Linked DNA regions of Homo sapiens: region 2 is linked to region 1. The links come from fine-mapping of genetic effects on gene expression. A gene starts in region 1. The other region holds a variant in brackets. All regions are shown on one strand. Distances are between the middles of the regions.

Region 1 (8,912 bases):
ACATGTTTTCATTTTTCTTGGGTGAATATCTAAAGAATCGAATTTCTAAGTCATATGTAAGTGTATATGTAATTATAAAAGAAACTGGGCCGGGCATGGTGGCTCACGCCTGTAATCTCAGCACTTTGGGAGGCTGAGGTGGGTGGATCACCTGACATCAGGATTTCGAGACCAGCCTGGCCAACATGGTGAAACCCTGTCTCTACTAAAATATATTAATTAGCTGGGTGTGGTGGTACATGCCTATAATCCCAGCTACTCAGGAAGCTGAGGCAGGAGGGTTGCTTGAACCTGGGAGGCAGAGGTTGTGGTAAGCCAAGATCGTGCCACTGCATTCCAGCCTGGGGAACACAGCCAGACTCCATCTCAAAAAAAAAAAAAAGAAACTGTCTGACCAGTTTCTAAGGTTGGAACATGGGGAGAATCATTCACCAAAAAAAGTAGAGAGTTCTTCCCAGAAGAAAGGGGAAGGGTGTGAGGCAAAAGTAATTTCCACTTTTTTTGAAATATAGAAAACCATTTTTCAAAGTAGTATCATTTTACTTTCCCACCAGCAGCATATGAGAGTTCCAGTTGCTCCATATCCTTGCCAGAACATGAAATGATCAGTCTTTTTCATTGTAGCCATTCTTAAATGTGTGCAGTAATATCTTCTTGTGATTTCAATTTGTATTTCCCTAATTAATGATTAATGATGTTGAATATTTTTTTCATGTACTTTTTGTTTTTCCATTTGTATTTTTTCTTTGGTGAAATGTCTGTTCAAATATTATAAAATTGAAGGTATTTATTTGCTTATTGCATTATTTCTGTCACTTCATGGTCTGTTTCTATTGGTTGATTTTTCAACCTGCTTACAAGTCATTTTCTTTGCATGCCTGATAATTTTTGTTTGCATGTTGGACATTGTGAATTTTATCTTATTGGGTGTTGGGTTTTGTTGTTGTTTGTTTTGTAACTAATCTTGGACTTTTTTTTTTCTCTGAGCACAGTTAAGTTACTTGAGATCAATTTGATCCTTTTGAAGATTGCTTTTAAGTTTTGTTAAGGCAGGACCAGATAAGTGTTTATTTTAGGGCTAATTTAGCCTCCCCCTGCATTAAGATGATACCCTTCTGTGGACTCTGGCCAATGCTTTGTGTATAAAAGGTCTCTGTTTTGGCTGGTATGAAGACAAATTACTTCCAGCCCTGTGTGAGCTCCAGGAATTGTTTGGCATACTGCTTTCTGGTAGTTCTTCCCATGGCCTCATAGAATTTCACCCATGCATGCCTAGGACAGTATTCAGCTAATGACTTGAAGTGACTGCTCTGCAGATCTCTGCAACTCTCTCTCTAATCATCTCCCATCACTCTTATATTCTGCTTCACAAATTCTAGCCACTTTGGCTTCCCTGGACTCTGATCTGTCTCCTGTGTTCTGTGAAATTTCTGGGCTCTGTTTGGGTTCTCCATCCCTACAGTGATGCCTGGAAACTGCTTTGAGACAGTAAGCTCGGACGTAAGACTCACTTCATTTGTTTCTCTTCTCTTAGTTATCACAGTCCTGTGCTCTGTTGTTCAATGCTTAAAAACAGTTGCTTCTTGCCGGGCACGGTGGCTCACACCTGTAATCCCAGCACTTTGGGAGTCCGAGGAGGGTGGATCACGAGGTCAGGAGATCGAGACCACCCTGACTAACACGGTGAAACCCCGTCTCATCTCTACTAAAAATACAAAAAACTAGCTGGACATACTGGTGGCTACCTGTAGTCCCAGGTACTCGGGAGACTGAGGCAGGAGAATGGTGTGAACCTAGGAGGCGGAGCTTGCAGTGAGCCGAGATCACAGCACTGCACTCCAGCCTGGGCGACAGAGTGAGACTCCGTCTCAAACAAACAAGTAAAGAAAAACAGTTGTTTCTTTTTTTTGATCCTGTTTTTCTAGTTGTTTGCAATGGGAGGACAATTCCCACAGCAGCCAATGCTTCATAGAAGAAAGTGGAATTCTCTTTTTTCTATTTTCAACTTTAAAAATCCCAAGGGAGATCGTTGGCCCAGTTTCTGTTTGGTGATCACCCATAAGCCAATCAAGGTAGTGAGGATATATAAGAAAATCACAGTTTCTAAGGTTGGAGTATGGGGAGACTCATTCCCCAGTGAAAAACAGAGAGCTCTTCCCAGAAGAAAGGGGAAGGGTACAGGGTAAAAACAGATGAGAGACATCTATTATCAAAGCAGTTCTTATGAAAAAGAACTTGAAGTCAAGAAACTGATAGAGCTGTAAGAGTTCCATTGTCTAGAAGGTGGAGTCCGTTCCCTGGCCACATGTTTTCCAGGGCCAAGGACAAACAAGAGCAGGTCCAGGATAGAGAGATACAATAAGTGTAACAGTTACACTGAAAGAGACAGAATGCAGTACAAAAGCAACTTTCTTTCTTTCTTTCTTCTTTTCCCTCCTCTACCCATCCAAGTCCGCTCTATGGACAAGTTCTTTCTCATCCCTTGTGAGAAATATGTGTTGGTCTCACTAGTTTTCTGGTCCTCTTCAGCTAATGAAAAGACCTCAAGATATTTTAACCCCATGAATAGTTTCATTTTGGTAATTAAAATGCTCAGTCCTGTGCAATAGTCAAATCTGAGAATTCCACTTATAGGGAGTAGGGAACAAGCATGTGGTCACCTCTTCTTTATTTTCCCACCAACAGGGTCTCTTTGAACCACAGTAGTCCATCCCTCCGCTGCTCCCCCTGCAAGATGGGTAACAGCCTTTCTGACGCAGGGAGCATAGGTGAGGGGTATGGATGGAGGGGAAGGGAGGTCTCAGGAAGGTCCTCTGTGCTGGGTGCTGTCCTGATCTAGCTTTGGTGTTCTCTTTGCCTAGTAAGTATGGAAAGCTTTTCCCCGTGGAGCATTGTTTTACCCGTATAACCTTACCTTGAGTGAGATATGGTGGGGCCAGACACAGATCAAGAGAGAGAAGCTAGAAAGAGTTTTAGAGCTTTTTATATCCACAGTTTCCTGGAGAGATCACAGCACACCATGCAGGTCCACTCAGGGCCAGGGTCTGTCACAGAGAGAGGGAGAGAGGGGAATTGTGGACAAACATCTTTATCATGGTTTCTGAGGGAAGGAAAGAGTGAAATAAGGCAAGCAGATATAGGATAGGCTAATTTGGATAATTTCAGCGGGTTCTGAAGTACAGGGGCTGTAACTAGTTGTTTGGTGCCTAGCCCTGGACAGGTGTATAGTGTCCCGCGTGTGAGAGCCTGCTAACGGAAGTGGTTGGGGGTATGCAGTTAATAGACTGCTGGAGAAGGGGAACTGACCAGCCTCCAGCCTGAGCCTCAAAACTGGGTCAAGGCAGCATGAAAAAACTGCTACATTACAGCTATTTTATGGGTTCTTTGGAGACCTGAGATATGAGAGCATGTCTCATCTGCAGTCCCTTTGTTGTCCGTGAAGTCTTTCTTCTGACTATATCAGGCACACGCACGCACAGATTCTGCTACATCTGAGAGTACTAAGCTGTCTCCTGCGCTTCTCACATCTGACACTGAATTATACATGACACCATCATCAGCAAAGGACAGGGCGCTGGGAGCACCACGCAGAACCTAAGCTATTGGAGGGTGGGAAAAGCAGCAGCAGAGCCTAGGAGTAGAGGACAAAGCGTTTCCAGTGTAACAGAATAATGTACTATCTGCGGCCGGGACTAGGGTGAGCAGAGTGAGGCGCTCAGTGAGGGTGCAACATTTAAGAGGTGCCATAAAATTCAGCAACTAAAATACATAATAGGTGGCTCACTCCTGTAATCCCAGCACTTTGGGAGGCCAAGGCGGGCGGATCACGAGGTCAGGAGTTTGAGACCAGCCTGGACAACATGGTGAAACCCCGTCTCTACTAAAAATACAAAAATTAGCTGGGCGTGGTGGCGCACTCCTGTAATCTCAGCTACTCATGAGGCTGAGGCAGAAGAATCGCTTGAACCCGGGAGGCGGAGCTTGCAGTGAGCCGAGATCGCGCCACTGCACCCCAGAGCGAGACTCTGTCTCATAAAAAAACAACAACAACAAAAAAAACCACCATAATATTTAATACGGTATTTTAAAAAATACATAAAAACGTTTATATAGGGTGCACAAGTTCCCTTTTGCCTAAGAGTTCAACGTGGCTCAGCGGGGCACTGGTGCTAAGCAGTCGCAGCTTCTAGTCTCCTCCTAGGGCCCGGAGCAGCCCCCAAGGAAAGGCCTTCCCTAGGAAGAAGTAGCCCTTCAGCCCAGCCTAGAAGAAGGAGCTGAATCAAACCAAGGCAGGACGATGAGGCGTGGCGTGTACTGACAGGGAAGAAGAAACAGCAAATATTTGAGTCCAAGATGCCTGGAGGGAAAAGAGCTAGAGGACTATTTGGGGGAATGGTCTTGGCAACACGGTTCTAGGCAGGTACCACGATCATATAGGGACTCTGTAGAATTTTAAGTAGGGAGGCAAGCGCCCAGGTTTGTTTCTTATGCAGAAAGTGCTGAGCAACGGACAGACTGAAGAGGTTAGGTCTGGATCCAGGTAAACCCTTTATGAGGCTAACGCACTAGCTGAATGAGGGATGACAGCATCCCACCTAGACAGGTGCAGACAGATTCCCGAGGTTCAGGTTCGGACTTCAGTTTCTCCGCTGGAACGCTGAGGGTGGGGCAGCACCCGGGTCCCTGCCCTGCAAACGGGGCCGCTGCAGGGTTCCTTTGGCGGGGCCGGTGCCCCGGGGAGCGCGCAGGACGCGCCCGCCTTCAGCCGGGGGCCAGGGCGAGCGGGACGGGGCGGGCCCGCGGGTGCCCTGACCAGCTCACCGCCCAATCGCTGCGGGCCCGCCGAGCCCCGGGGGGCTGGGGCCGCCGCCGCCGCCGCCAGAACGTGCCGCGGCTGCGCCAACGCGCGAACGCCGGGCAGGGCGGCGGGCGCGCTCAGTCTGGCGGCGGCTGCCGTGAGCTGACTGACGTTCCGGGAACGCCGCAGCAGCCCGCGCCGCCCGCAGCCTAGCCGAGCCGCGCCGCCCGGGCCTCGCCCGCCCGCCTGCCCGCCATGGTGTCATGGATCATCTCCAGGCTGGTGGTGTAAGTGGCCTTCTCCCCCGCGCCCCTCCGTCCCCTCCCTCCCCGCCCCCGGCCCCGGGCTGCGCGCGCCCCTACAGCGCCCGGTCCCAGTGGCTCGGGCTATTAATACCCGGCGCAGCTAAATTTAGCAGGTACAGTAGCCGCCGAGGACGCCTGCGGGCGGACGGGCGGCGCAGGACGCGGCTGCTGCCCAGGAGGCAGCCGGCGCCGGCGGCCGCTTGCGGGGGGCTGGGCCGGGACGGCGAGGGCTGGGGCGCTCGGGGGTTCCGTGGGGGCTGCGTCTCGCCGCGCGCTGGCCGCTTTGTTCCTCAGCTCGGTCGATTTGCAGAGGCCCCGAATGGGCGCACCGCGGACACGCGTCTCTCTCCTTTGGCAGAAATGTGAGGTCGCCCGGCGCCGCGCCCCGCCGCCCCAGCTTTTGTCAGGTGGAAAGGACAGCGCAGACGAACCAGGGGCGCTGCCTGGAGGGTCAGCGCGGAACGGGTGGAGAGGCAGAGGCGGGGCTCCCAGTGGGGTTGGAAAAATCCTCCTTTTTAGGTGTCTGCATCGACAGCGGCAAAGGCAGCTGGGACATGGGAAGACGCATGTGAATCTTGGAGTAAACGCCTGGAGCCCCCGGCTCCGACTCCTTTTGCAGGGGATTGAGAGACAGGGGCAGGTACCTCCAGGAATGCACGGGAAATTTTCAAGTGACAGCCACCCGCATGGTGGCGATGACACCTCCCAGGCCTTGCAGGAGAGCGCAGAGTCATCTAGGGTGAGGTCTGTGTGAAGTCATTGGGGGTGGGCGTGGGGGCCGATTTTCTCCTTCAAGCCCCAGGACCTGTAGGCGTTTGAAGAGCTTCCCCGGTGGATTTATTCTCCTTTGGAGATAGACGTGGCTGTTCCAAGTCCCTGTTCTTCCCTAACCATCCTGGCCTGAGTCAGAACAGATTTGCCACCTGCTGTAGCTAGCAGGGGCTGAAATGGGTGTGGGGAGTCTAAGGCGGGGAGGAGGGTGGCAGGCACCTCGGGCTTTTTCTTTGTCTGAGAACACGGGGCTCTGGACCCCAGTGATTGTGCACCATCACTCCCCACGTTTTGAAACACCACCCATCTCCCTTCCCTTCTTTACTGATTTTCCCTTCCGAAGTGGATCTCAGCATTGTCTCCCGCCACCATTCAGGGCTTTCCTCCCAAAGCCAGTGTCTGTGCCTCTCAGCCCCCAAGTCATTCCGTGAAGGCCTCTCCACAGCTGTTCCTGACTGCGGGGTGTTTGCGCTGCACCTTGAGGTGGCATGTTAAATATTTAGAAGATTTCTGCTGGCAGAGCCGACATGAATAATACAGGAAAGTGGCTGACACGCCTTGCCCAGCCTCATGCCTGACCAACACTGTCTTGCCTTCAGGGTGGTGTTTCCTCTCTGGGATCGATATTGCCAGTGGCTTCTGGGAAGCCCTCAGGGTGGGGCTGGAGAGTTGAGCTGGCCTGGCTGGTGGGCTCTCTGTAGGTCCTGCTGGGCTGGGAGTGAGGGCATCTGATCCTGGGTCATGTGACTATCATTAGTTTTATTAGCACTGGGTCATGTGACTATCATTAGTTTTATTAGCACCTCCCTCACCCCTGCCCTTTTTTTTTTTTTTTTTTTGAGACCGAGTCTCGCTCTGTCGCCCAGGCTGGAGAGTGCAGTGGCACAGTCTCGGCTCACTGAAGCCTCCGCCTCCTGGGTTCAAGCGATTCTCCTGCCTCAGCCTCCCGAGTAGCTGGGATTACAAGCGCCTGCCACCACGCCCAGCTAATTTTTGTATTTTTAGTAGAGACGGGGTTTCACCATGTTGGCCAGCCTGGTCTTGAACTCCTGACCTAGTGATCCGCCCGCTTCGGCCTCCCAAAGTTCTGGGATTACAGGCGTGAGCTACCACGCCCGGCTCCTCCCCCTTTTTTACAATGAGCAACTGATGGGGGTGGAGAGGAGAGGCATATATTTGGGAGGTGTCTCAGGGATGTGCTGTTGCTTTCTAAAACAACCACACTCCCTAGAACCGAGACTTCAGAGAATTTAAATGAACAGCATTATGTGGCCCAAGGAGAGTTGATGGGATTTGGGATTGTTACTTCCACTATCAAGTCCAAAAGGTCAGGGATACCACTTATCCCCCAGTCCCTAATTCCCTGTAGAAACCTAGCATAAGCATATTGATTATGAGTTATGAACATCATTTTTAATAAGCAATACCTGTTTCATGAAGACAATATTTGTTAATTACAGGAAAATTAGAAAAGATAAACTGAAAATCATCCACATTTCCACCACACAGAGATAACTAATAATAATGATGGAGGGCATATTCTTCAAGAAATTTTCCTGTATTGCATATATGTACATATATTTGTAATTCAAGGATATTATTGATTCAGCCCAATATTCTACACTCCACATACCTTGAGGAACTTCTTATCAAGGGGAGGAATACTGTGTTTGGAGTCAGAACGCCCATGGTTCAAATCCCAGTTTTGCCTCTTGCCAGAAGATCCCAGTTCACAACTCAGATCAGAGCAGATGCTAGTCCACAGCTAGTTAACCTCATGTTGCTGTTGCAAAGATTTCCATGACACTTGATATATAAATTGCCAAGCACCACGGAGAGCACTAAATCAATGATGAGTCCCTCCTTCTGTCCTCCCCGGGAACCCTATGAGAGGGGCTCTCAGACTTAATTTACTCCTGTGGTTTTCAAACTGGGTTCCCTGAGGGCCACCCAGCCTGAGCAGATGGGCTCTGGGCTCCTCATCCCTGATTCAACCCAAGCAGTTCCCTTTTTGTTTGTCTTATATATTGGGGTTCTAGATAAAATACAATTCAGAAAAATATATGTGTTTTACTGCTAATAAAAACAACTGATCTAGTCCTCCCCCTCATCTGTAAAACTGCAGAGGAAATATGCCTTGCTCAGGGACACAAGATGAGCTGGTGAAGAAAACAGGCTCTGGATTTTTAGTCCAGTCCAGTGCTTTTTCCACCTTCACTCCCCACTGAGAAAAACATCTCTTTCAAGCTCCCTAGACCTCTGGTATGGGAGCATCCTATGGTTTTATCCGCGAGTCACGTTTTGTATAAGTAATCTTTTCATGGTTTTGTAAGCCTCTGTCACATCAAAGAACATGTAAGGAAGACCTATCACTGTGTTGTGAGGATAGAGAGGGAGTGTCTTCCTGTCTTTGTGTGGTCCCAACCATCCGACCAGAGGTATCACAACAAGCTGATGGCCTCCAGGGACAGCCAGCCAGTGCTCGTGGTTGTCTCTGCTGCTACTGGCCGTGAGCATTTTGAAGAAAGCAATTGTGGCTTGTTTCCCTTTACAACCGCTTTATCCCTGCCATGGGTCTTTCACAAAGTATCTGGCACCTGAATGCACTGAGTGAAGGTTGGTTGTGTTGAAGGAAATCCTAGGCCCTGGGGACAAGCAGAGTGGCTGGCTACTGCTGTCCCCTGGGGACGGAGGTCAGCAGGCATCAAGACAGGCTTGTGCCCACGGGCAAGGCTCTTAGAGTGAGGACCAGTTTGAGATGCTTATTTCTTGCCAGCTCTCTTTCTCCTAACTTCCTTGGCTCAGCCTGTAAAGAATTAAGGAAGAGATACTCAGTGCAATAGCACTCAGAACCAGGTTGATACCTTCATGGGACACAGGGGCTTATTTAGGACTTGCCTGCTTGCCTCCTTTCATTTTCTTTACATACAACTCAAGGCCTAGGCATGAATGAATTTCAAACTGGGGAGAGCATGTTTTTGTGCACCCTTTTGGAGGGGGGATACCAACGTTGCTCTGTGACTTCTTGGAAGAATATG
Region 2 (8,000 bases), 120 kb after region 1:
AAACTGAACTGACAGAGGAGTCTGAGCAGGGCTGCAGATGGAGAGAAGCGTCCCAGCCCAGCTCTGACTAACCCTGTGTCCCTGTGGGGCCTCCTGGTCCAAGTTGGAAATGAAGGGGCTGCGTTCAGCTGTTTCCAGCACCGGGCACTAGACGCTGGCCTGGTGGACACACTAGTTCATGGGAAATGACCCTGTGGTGCCAGTGGCTCCAGGCAATTGCAGGGATTTCTGTCTATTCACACTGTAGTTTTGAGTCTGCAAATTCTGTGAGCCATTCCAAAAGCCTCTAATTCTGGGAGATTGGCACTTGGGGGTCGGGGAGAGTGGCTGCCCTGTCCTCCATTCTTCCCCTGACACTGCTCTGTGCTGCTCTCAGAAGCCCTTCCCTGCCATGACATCTGGTGGTTTCATGATCAGACACAGTGTTTCCAGTGCATTTCAATAGAGCTGTGGTTGATTGTAGGAACTGAATAGTTCTGGAAGGCTGCATGTGCATAAGAGTGTGTCCAGGATTCAGTGTCCAAGTTCTGGTTCCTTATCCCCGAGCAGGTTGGTTGCTGCTGGGATGGGGGTTGCTGGACAGCGGGAAGCAGGTGAGGCCTGGTGGTGGCCTCAAGACCTGGAAGCCGTTGTCCTAGCCCTTCCTTTCTTGGACCTCCGCCTCTCCAAGGGCCTCTTAATACCTGTGCCCTGGCTCTCAGGTCTGCATGCAAGGAACCCTTTGATGATTGGCCTACACCATTCCCTCTGAGGCCTTGGGAAAGCCCCTGCACTCTGCAGGCCTCAGTCTCCCCCTCCATGAGGTGTCCCTTGGTCCTCCCAGCTCTGACAGTCTCTACTGGATTGTGCAGTGGTGGCAGATGGTGTTGGGGGAGGTCTGTCTTGCACCTGGGGCTATAGGCTGACTCTTAAGCAGTAAGAGGATTTCACAGTTGTCGGGGACACTTTCCTCCTGGTCCCCTGAAATGTTGTCACAAGGGGTGCTCACTCAGGCCAAAGCCTGGGAAGATTCAAATTACCTCTGGGGCCATGCAGAGCCCCAGGATCCCTCAGCAGACAGGAACATTTTCTAGGAGTTGTAAATTCAGGTCTTAATTCATGATGGGGGTAGGGAAAGGAGGCATTTCGGAGGCTGCTAAGTGCCTTTTAGGGCAGTGACAGAGCTTAGAGGCCCCAGGGGCAGCAGCCTCTATTCTAAGCTGCACATCTCAGATGCCAGAACATTCTTTTCCCATCTTTGCTCTGTTCCTGCCCCATTTGTCAACTGATTCCCTATTGTTTTCTGCATGTCTTTGTCTCTCTTTTTCTGTGTGTCTATTATTATCTCTCTCTCTCTTTTTTTTTTTCTCTGCCTACCTCTATGTCATATAGAACTGAACTCTGGATTACTGCCTGTGTGGTTAGTCATAGAGGTGTCCCTCCCCCCCTTTTAAAATCAAGCATGTAGGACATAATTTTTAAAAGCAGTCATCCTTTTTGTCCTCTCAGAGAGAGAGAGAGAGAGAGAGAGAGAATTGCATTTTGAGTGTGGCCTCTGGGCAGTGTCCTTCTGATTATAGCAGGAGGAGCTGCCTGAGGTTTAGAGCATGGGAAGTGAGTGAGCATGTGTGTGTCTACATGTGTGTATGTGAGTGTGTCTGTGTGTGAGTGTGTGTGGATGGGGATGTGTGCATGGTGCACACGTGTGAGTTTTAGTGCCAAAGACCCTTCTCTAACGGAATGTTCTTTTCTCTCTCCTCGGTGCTGTTGGGGACGTGGATGTAAGTGTTCCAGACAGGCGTGCTCTTCTGCAGACATTTGCTGCCTTCCATTAATGCTCCCGCTAATGTGTGCTGTGTGGGATGTTTTTGCTAACCTGGGGGAGGTTCTGCTGCACTGCAGGGGTGCGGCAGCCCTGGGCCCACTGCAGGCTACACAGGCCTTTAAAGGGCTGAGAGGCTCTGCCAGTTTCTCCCTCCCTCCCTTCCCCACAGAGAGAAGAGGTGGAGCCTGCAGCCCTGGCTGCTGTAGCCCTGCTGACACATTTGCTAATACAGAAACATCAGCCAAGGCCACACACCCATTCCCCTGCTGTGGAAGACGGCAGAAACCCTGCCCTTTCCTAGAAGCAACCCAGCTTTGGGCATCATAGTGGCAGCTCTGCAGGCTCAAGGCCGTGGCCACCATCACCTGAGGTTTGCAAGTTGTTATGGCCATGACCTTGGGCGGGAGACCCTCCTCCCACACACATTGTCTCTGGGAGCCAATTAGAGTACTAAGATGTGGATAGCAATACTCTTTCAGGCCTGTTGCCAGGGGTAAGGACCTGTTGGGTCACCAATCTTTAGATCTTCAGGGACAAGAACATGGAGGAGGCAGAGCATGGGATTTTCTACCCAGCTACTCACTCTCCTGCTCCTCCTGGTGCCCCTCTTTTGGGACTATGTTCTGTGGGGTTCATTTCTCCATTTATACTCCTTCCTGATATAAAAAGGAGTTAGGTCTACTTGTGGAAATATATCTAAAGTAGCAAATCAAAGTAAGAAAATTGAAGCATGGGGAGAAGGGAGTGGGCAAGTAAGATGGAATCAGTGGGGAGAAGGACATTTTAAATGCATACCATCAAGGTGTAGACTGTTGAGACACCTGGCTTCCTTGAAACCACTGCAAAGAGGGAAATACAATTATTAAGAGATTCAGTCCACTGTGCAACAGCCAGCTAGAGGCGTGGAAGCTTGTCTTATTTAGAATGTTTATTCTCACTGGTTCTGAGAGTAAGGCAAATATTATAGACAACACTCTTGGCAGAAATGCTCAGCGGACACAGTGACTAGGAGATGTCTTATCTTCTTAGGAGGTTCTCTCTGTAGCTTCTTCCTGAGGCTATTCTGGCTCCCTCACTGCCCACACTGGCCTCTTTTGCTCCCAGCCTCTGCTGAGCTGAGCACTTGTTTCTATTCCTGCTTGGATATCTGGGTTGTCCTTGAACCATCACTCCTACTGGGCTGGAGGGTCATTTCTTTTCTACCCTGCAATCCTTGCAGTGGAGAACATGCACAAAGCCATTTTGGTTTCAGTCCTGAGATTATAGTGATGATGGTGATTTTGGTAAGTGTGAGTTCATTGCTCAGCCTCAGTGAATCCAGACTGGATAACTAGCCTGGGTTGTTAGATGCCTGAGGATCTCACGGTGACTTTGGGCCACCTTCTGACACCCACAACCATCAGTACAGGGAAAGCCCTGGACCTGGATGTGGAGGGTACAGCATATGCAGAGGCACAGTCTCGAACCGGTACCCACCCCACTTCCATGTCATGGAGTTGGCTGCTGGGGTGGAGCTGGCCAGGCTGCTTCTGCAGTTTTTGCCTTGGTCTGAGGGCTTTTGGTCTTTTTTCCCTCCTGCCAGGCAGGAGGTATCTGTGTCCAGAAGGAATTTCCTGGTTTGGTTAATGGGGGTGTCAAGCTCTGACTTGGGACTAGAGCTGAGCTCTCTGAGATGACTTCAGGATTCTATTTAGTTTAGTTGATGAGTGGCCACTGTGTGCCCAGCCCTGGGTCAGGTGCTCAGAGAGACTGAGGGAGGATCAGCCATGGCCCCCCAGTCTCAGGATGCCTTCTGTTGGCTGAGGCAATGAGACTGACATGAGGACCAGGGCACCCAACACAAGCTGTGTGGCACAGCCTCCAAGCACTGTCGGGTCTCAGAGTGGGGAGGCCAGGGAGGGTCAGAGTATTCAGCGAGGGCTCCCTGGAGTCACTGGTCTTTGTGCTCAACAGGATGCAGCTGATTAGGACAGAGGAAGGGAGCAGAGGACAAACTAAGCCCAGAGTAAATAAGCTGAGGGAAGTGCAGAGTAGAAATAAAATAATAATAGTAATTTAAAAATCAAAGGAACATCAGTGATCTCAGGACTTTACTTACTAAGGCCCAGTCTGAACCAATCACACCCCAGCCTAAAATTCAGCTTTGCATGTTGTGCTGC[T/C]TCCTGCTGGCTGTTGGGGAGCACAGCAGTGGTAACTGGTAAAGCTGCCCAAGATTAGGGTTCAGTTGTCTGTTTTTTTACTCCACGCCTGGTGGTGGTATAGTCTAGCAAGTCCACTGTTGATGGAGAGAGAGCACATTCGGTGGCTGAATATGTTCTTAGGAGCAGGGTGTCTCAAGAAGAGCTGTGGTTTCTATCTGGAGGCCTCACGGTGATTGGACCAGATGACTTGAGAACCCCTTAGTCTTGCATTCTGTGATTCTAGGTAAAAACAATAGATGCAGCATAGAAAAATGTGTGTGTGTGATACCAGATAAGCTGGGTAGGGGCAGAAGATATTTTACATCTCAACTAAGAACCGCCTAGCAGATGACATGGAATATGTATTAGCATTTAACATTTAAAAAATACTGTGCGTTCAATGAGATGAATTAATTCTGAAGCTTTTCCCGCAGATGTATTCAAGGCAGACTGAAACAGGAATCTTGCTATCATTTTTTTTGGCAGAGGCATCTGTCAGATTCTCCTTCCTTAGGTTTCTCTGCTTCTCTAGGACTGGGCCTTCGCAAAAAAAAAAACAAACAAAAAAACTATATAGCTTTGTTTAAGGTTATCACTTAAGGCCTCCTGGCATTTTATATCCTGTCTCTTACAGGATGCTTGGAATTGAATATGCAAGTATAATATACAATGTCAACATGGCTTGTATGTACAACATAGAAACTGCTCTCCCACCCCACCCCACATCACTGCTGCCATCCTCTCTAGAGGAGATTCTTTCCCTGAGCATTCACCTGGTGTGGGATCACAGGACTGAGCTGCAGGGATTGATGTGTCTCAGTTAAAGCCGCTTCTTTCTTCACCCAGGGAAGTGATGCCCCCTTAGTAAATCTACTGAATTACTCAGAATTCAGTAGATTCTGAGTCTGTGGTTGTTTCTGTGCACAGTGCCTGGAGATTCACACAACTGCACTTTCACAATCCCAGATCCCCTGTAAGGAGGCCCCCAAAACATCAGTGCTTCCTCAGACCGAGGGGCCTCAGCTGTCCTCACAGGCCTGGTTTGCTGTGCTGTGTGCCTAACCTTGCCCTTCCCTGCTCCCTGCACTGATGCTTCCTTGCTATACCTTGTCTCATCTGTGTAGATTGTAAATGGACATTAAGTGGTTGAGGGAGATGTGAATGAGGGTGGTATGAAGGCATGGGAGCCCCACCAGGTCCAAAACCCATTGGCGTTTTCTGACGACGAGGAGGAAGACCTGCTGGATTTCATGTACAAGTATAAAGCACCTCGAAGGATGGAATTGCCCCTGGAGGTACACAGTGTCTGGGGCTGTGGGTTGGAGTGTGTTTGTCCAAAGGCTATGCCCTGGAGATTGGGGGTCCTGGGAGCAGCATCTCTTGGGGCACCAACATCTCCTCAATACCTGGGGTGGAAAGATCTCCTTCCATCAAACAAGCAGAACCAGTCACTGGATAGCATCCAGCTACTTGCCAAGGAGAGGAAATCCTATTAATTTCATTTAGAAATAGGAGCGTGAGCCGGGTGCAGTGGCTTATGCCTGTAATCCCAGCACTTTGGGAGGCCGAGGCAGGTGGATCACCTGAGGTCAGGAGTTCGAGACCAGCCTGGCCAACATGGCAAAACCCCTTATCTACTGAAAATACAAAAATTAGCCGGGTGTAGTGGCGCGCACCTGTAGTCCCAGCTGCTTGGGAAACTGAGGCAGGAGACTCGCTTGAACCCAGGAGGAGGAGGTTGCAGTGAGACTGCACTGCTGCACTCCAGCCGGGATGACACAGCGAGACTCCTTCTCAAAAAAAAAAAAAAAAAGAAAAGAAAAACAAATAGGAGAGTGGTAAAGTATCTAGGTCTTTATTGTTTTGTTTTGGTTTTTCCAGGTATTAACAACTACCACTCTAAGTTGACGTACAAGTGAAAAACAACCCAAATTGACTGTTTTGGGGGAAGAAAACTCAGAATGTGTTATTTGAAAAGTTTTTATAAATAAGAACAAGGCTTGTTCATCGCTGTATCTCCAAGACACAGCATATAGTGCCTGGTATAAAGTAGCTATTCATGAAATGTTAGTGAAGGGGTATAGCCCTTTAGGGTTACCAAAACCAATACCCTTGACATATATGCTATTTTCAGTTGTAGGATGTGGATGGAGTTCTGGCAGCAGGAGGGCTGAGCCTGGAGCCTCCTGGGCCTTGCTCTGTGATGTGGGTAGGGAGTCACCAGTCATGAGCACAGGTGCAGGGACCCCAGTCTTTCTCTCTGCTTCCTAAGGTCTCCTCTCCTATTCCCCATCTGCTGAGTATCACGGCCTGAGAGGCCATCTGAAGCAAATAGGAAGTCTCCGTACAGACCCTTGTGAGACTTATATGGGGAGATGCCTTGAAATGTTCCCTTCTGCAGACACTGAGCAGCCTAGCATTCTTATTTGTTAGGACTGTAATTATGACCACCTCCATGTGCAGTTCATCAGGTTCCTTTGCAAGGTGAGGCACACATGCATCCCTTTTAAAGTTAGAGGGTTTGGGAAAGGATGTTCTGGGCTTGGACACTGCTGGAGGAGTCTGGCCTGGGCAATCTGGCCTGGGCAGCCTCCTGATGGGGAGAGGAGCCCAGCCTAAAGAATTCTAAGGCCCAAGGGTTTGTGCTGTTTTGCTTTTGTTTATTAAAGCTGCACAAACTGCTTTACTGTTTACAGTTCACCAGCCTGCCAAGAGGCAGATTACTATAAAGGTGGGTTCCGTTGTTTCCGTTTTCAGTGTCTGTCCAGAGGTGGCTGGTAAGCATTTCCTAGTGGTAAGGCTGTAGCATGAGGACTCTATGAGAGGGCCTGAGTCTTGTTTTCTGGCTCATTCACTTCCTGCCTTGTATGTGCCTGCCCAGCACTGAGCCACTTACCAGGAAATGGTGGTGAATGCGACATGGGCCTGCCCTCAGGAAGTCCCCAGTCTGGTGGGGAGAGAGTGAGCAGGGCCCCCACACACTCCCTTCCCACTGGGTGCAAAGTCCTCTGCTGGGGGACATGTACAAAACATGAGAGAACAAAGGAGGTGACGATGCCTGGTTGTGCATGGCTGGGCAGTGGCAGGAGGGGCTCCGGGAAACCTTTGCAGAAGTGACTTTTGAGCTGGGTCCTCAAGAGGCCTAGAAATATGCAAGACAGAGGAGGGAGGGAAGGGCTTCCAGTCAGAAGGAATAGAGGCATGAATGGGCACAGTGTAGAGAAAGAAGTTCTCTGTGTATACAGAGAAGTGGACAGACACGGGGGCCAAGGGTAGGTTGGGGCCAGTTGTGTGAACCCCCTCAAGTGCTGTGCCAGAAAATGTTCCCTTCACTTTCATTGAAATAGGAACTCCTCCTGTGATCTGTGTATCCCATGGAAGGAGGGGTCTCTTGAGAGTCATTTGTGGGAGAGATGAGGTGGAGCCCTTCATATAAGTTGAGCATCCCTAATCGAAAAATCTGAAATTCTTTGAGTGTGGACAAGACGCACAAAGGTCATGCTCATAGGAGCATTTTGAATCTCAGATTTTCAGATTGGGGTGCTCAATTGGAATGTATATGCAAACATCCCAAAATCTGAAAAAAAAAAAAAAAAAATCTGAAATCCCAAACACTTCTGACTCCAGGCATTTCCGGATAAGGGATATTCAACCTGTACTTCAAGGTGGTGTTTGCCTTTGTGGTGTGGTGTGCTGTACATTAAGAGGTTTCTCATCCAGAAAGGGGACTGGAAATTTGATGATGGAAATTTGAGGCATGTACCAAAACACATTAGGCTGGTTCCCAAAGGAAATAACAAAAGCAAAGGAAGCATGCGGAGGTGTCTCTTTCTGCTGAATCATTTAAGATAATTTTGCTCCTCAGGCAGAAACAAGAAAGATGTGTCATTCTGCACAACCGTTCCCTTGGGAGATTGAGGAGCATAATTTAAGAGGGAGGCATCAGCCTCTCAAAGGGCTCAGCTTCATGCGATATGTGGGATGGGACTCTGATGATTGCTTCCTGTTGCGGAGAT

Direction of the effects. Alleles are on the strand shown, and positions count from the first base shown. SD is a standard deviation of normalised expression in the study named.
As copies of C replace T in region 2, the expression in tibial artery of the gene that starts at base 4,938 in region 1 goes up (small effect, 0.34 SD a copy in GTEx).

What was found. PIP is the estimated chance that this variant, and not a neighbour inherited with it, causes the effect.
Region 2: its variant is fine-mapped to the expression of REEP1 in tibial artery (GTEx, PIP 0.96).

The regions. Positions count from the first base shown.
Region 1 is chr2:86,333,652-86,342,563 of GRCh38, reverse strand. REEP1 (receptor accessory protein 1) reads left to right here and starts at 4,938. Exons shown (of 9, transcript NM_001371279.1): 1 at 4,938-5,085. The coding sequence starts at 5,054.
Region 2 is chr2:86,217,249-86,225,248 of GRCh38, reverse strand. It overlaps REEP1 (receptor accessory protein 1), which reads left to right. Exons shown (of 9, transcript NM_001371279.1): 8 at 5,128-5,279. Among named protein-coding and RNA genes, the nearest start is that of MRPL35, 22 kb to the right of the region's middle. RefSeq lists an enhancer at 6,789-7,083. The variant T/C (reference allele first, on the strand shown) is at 3,964.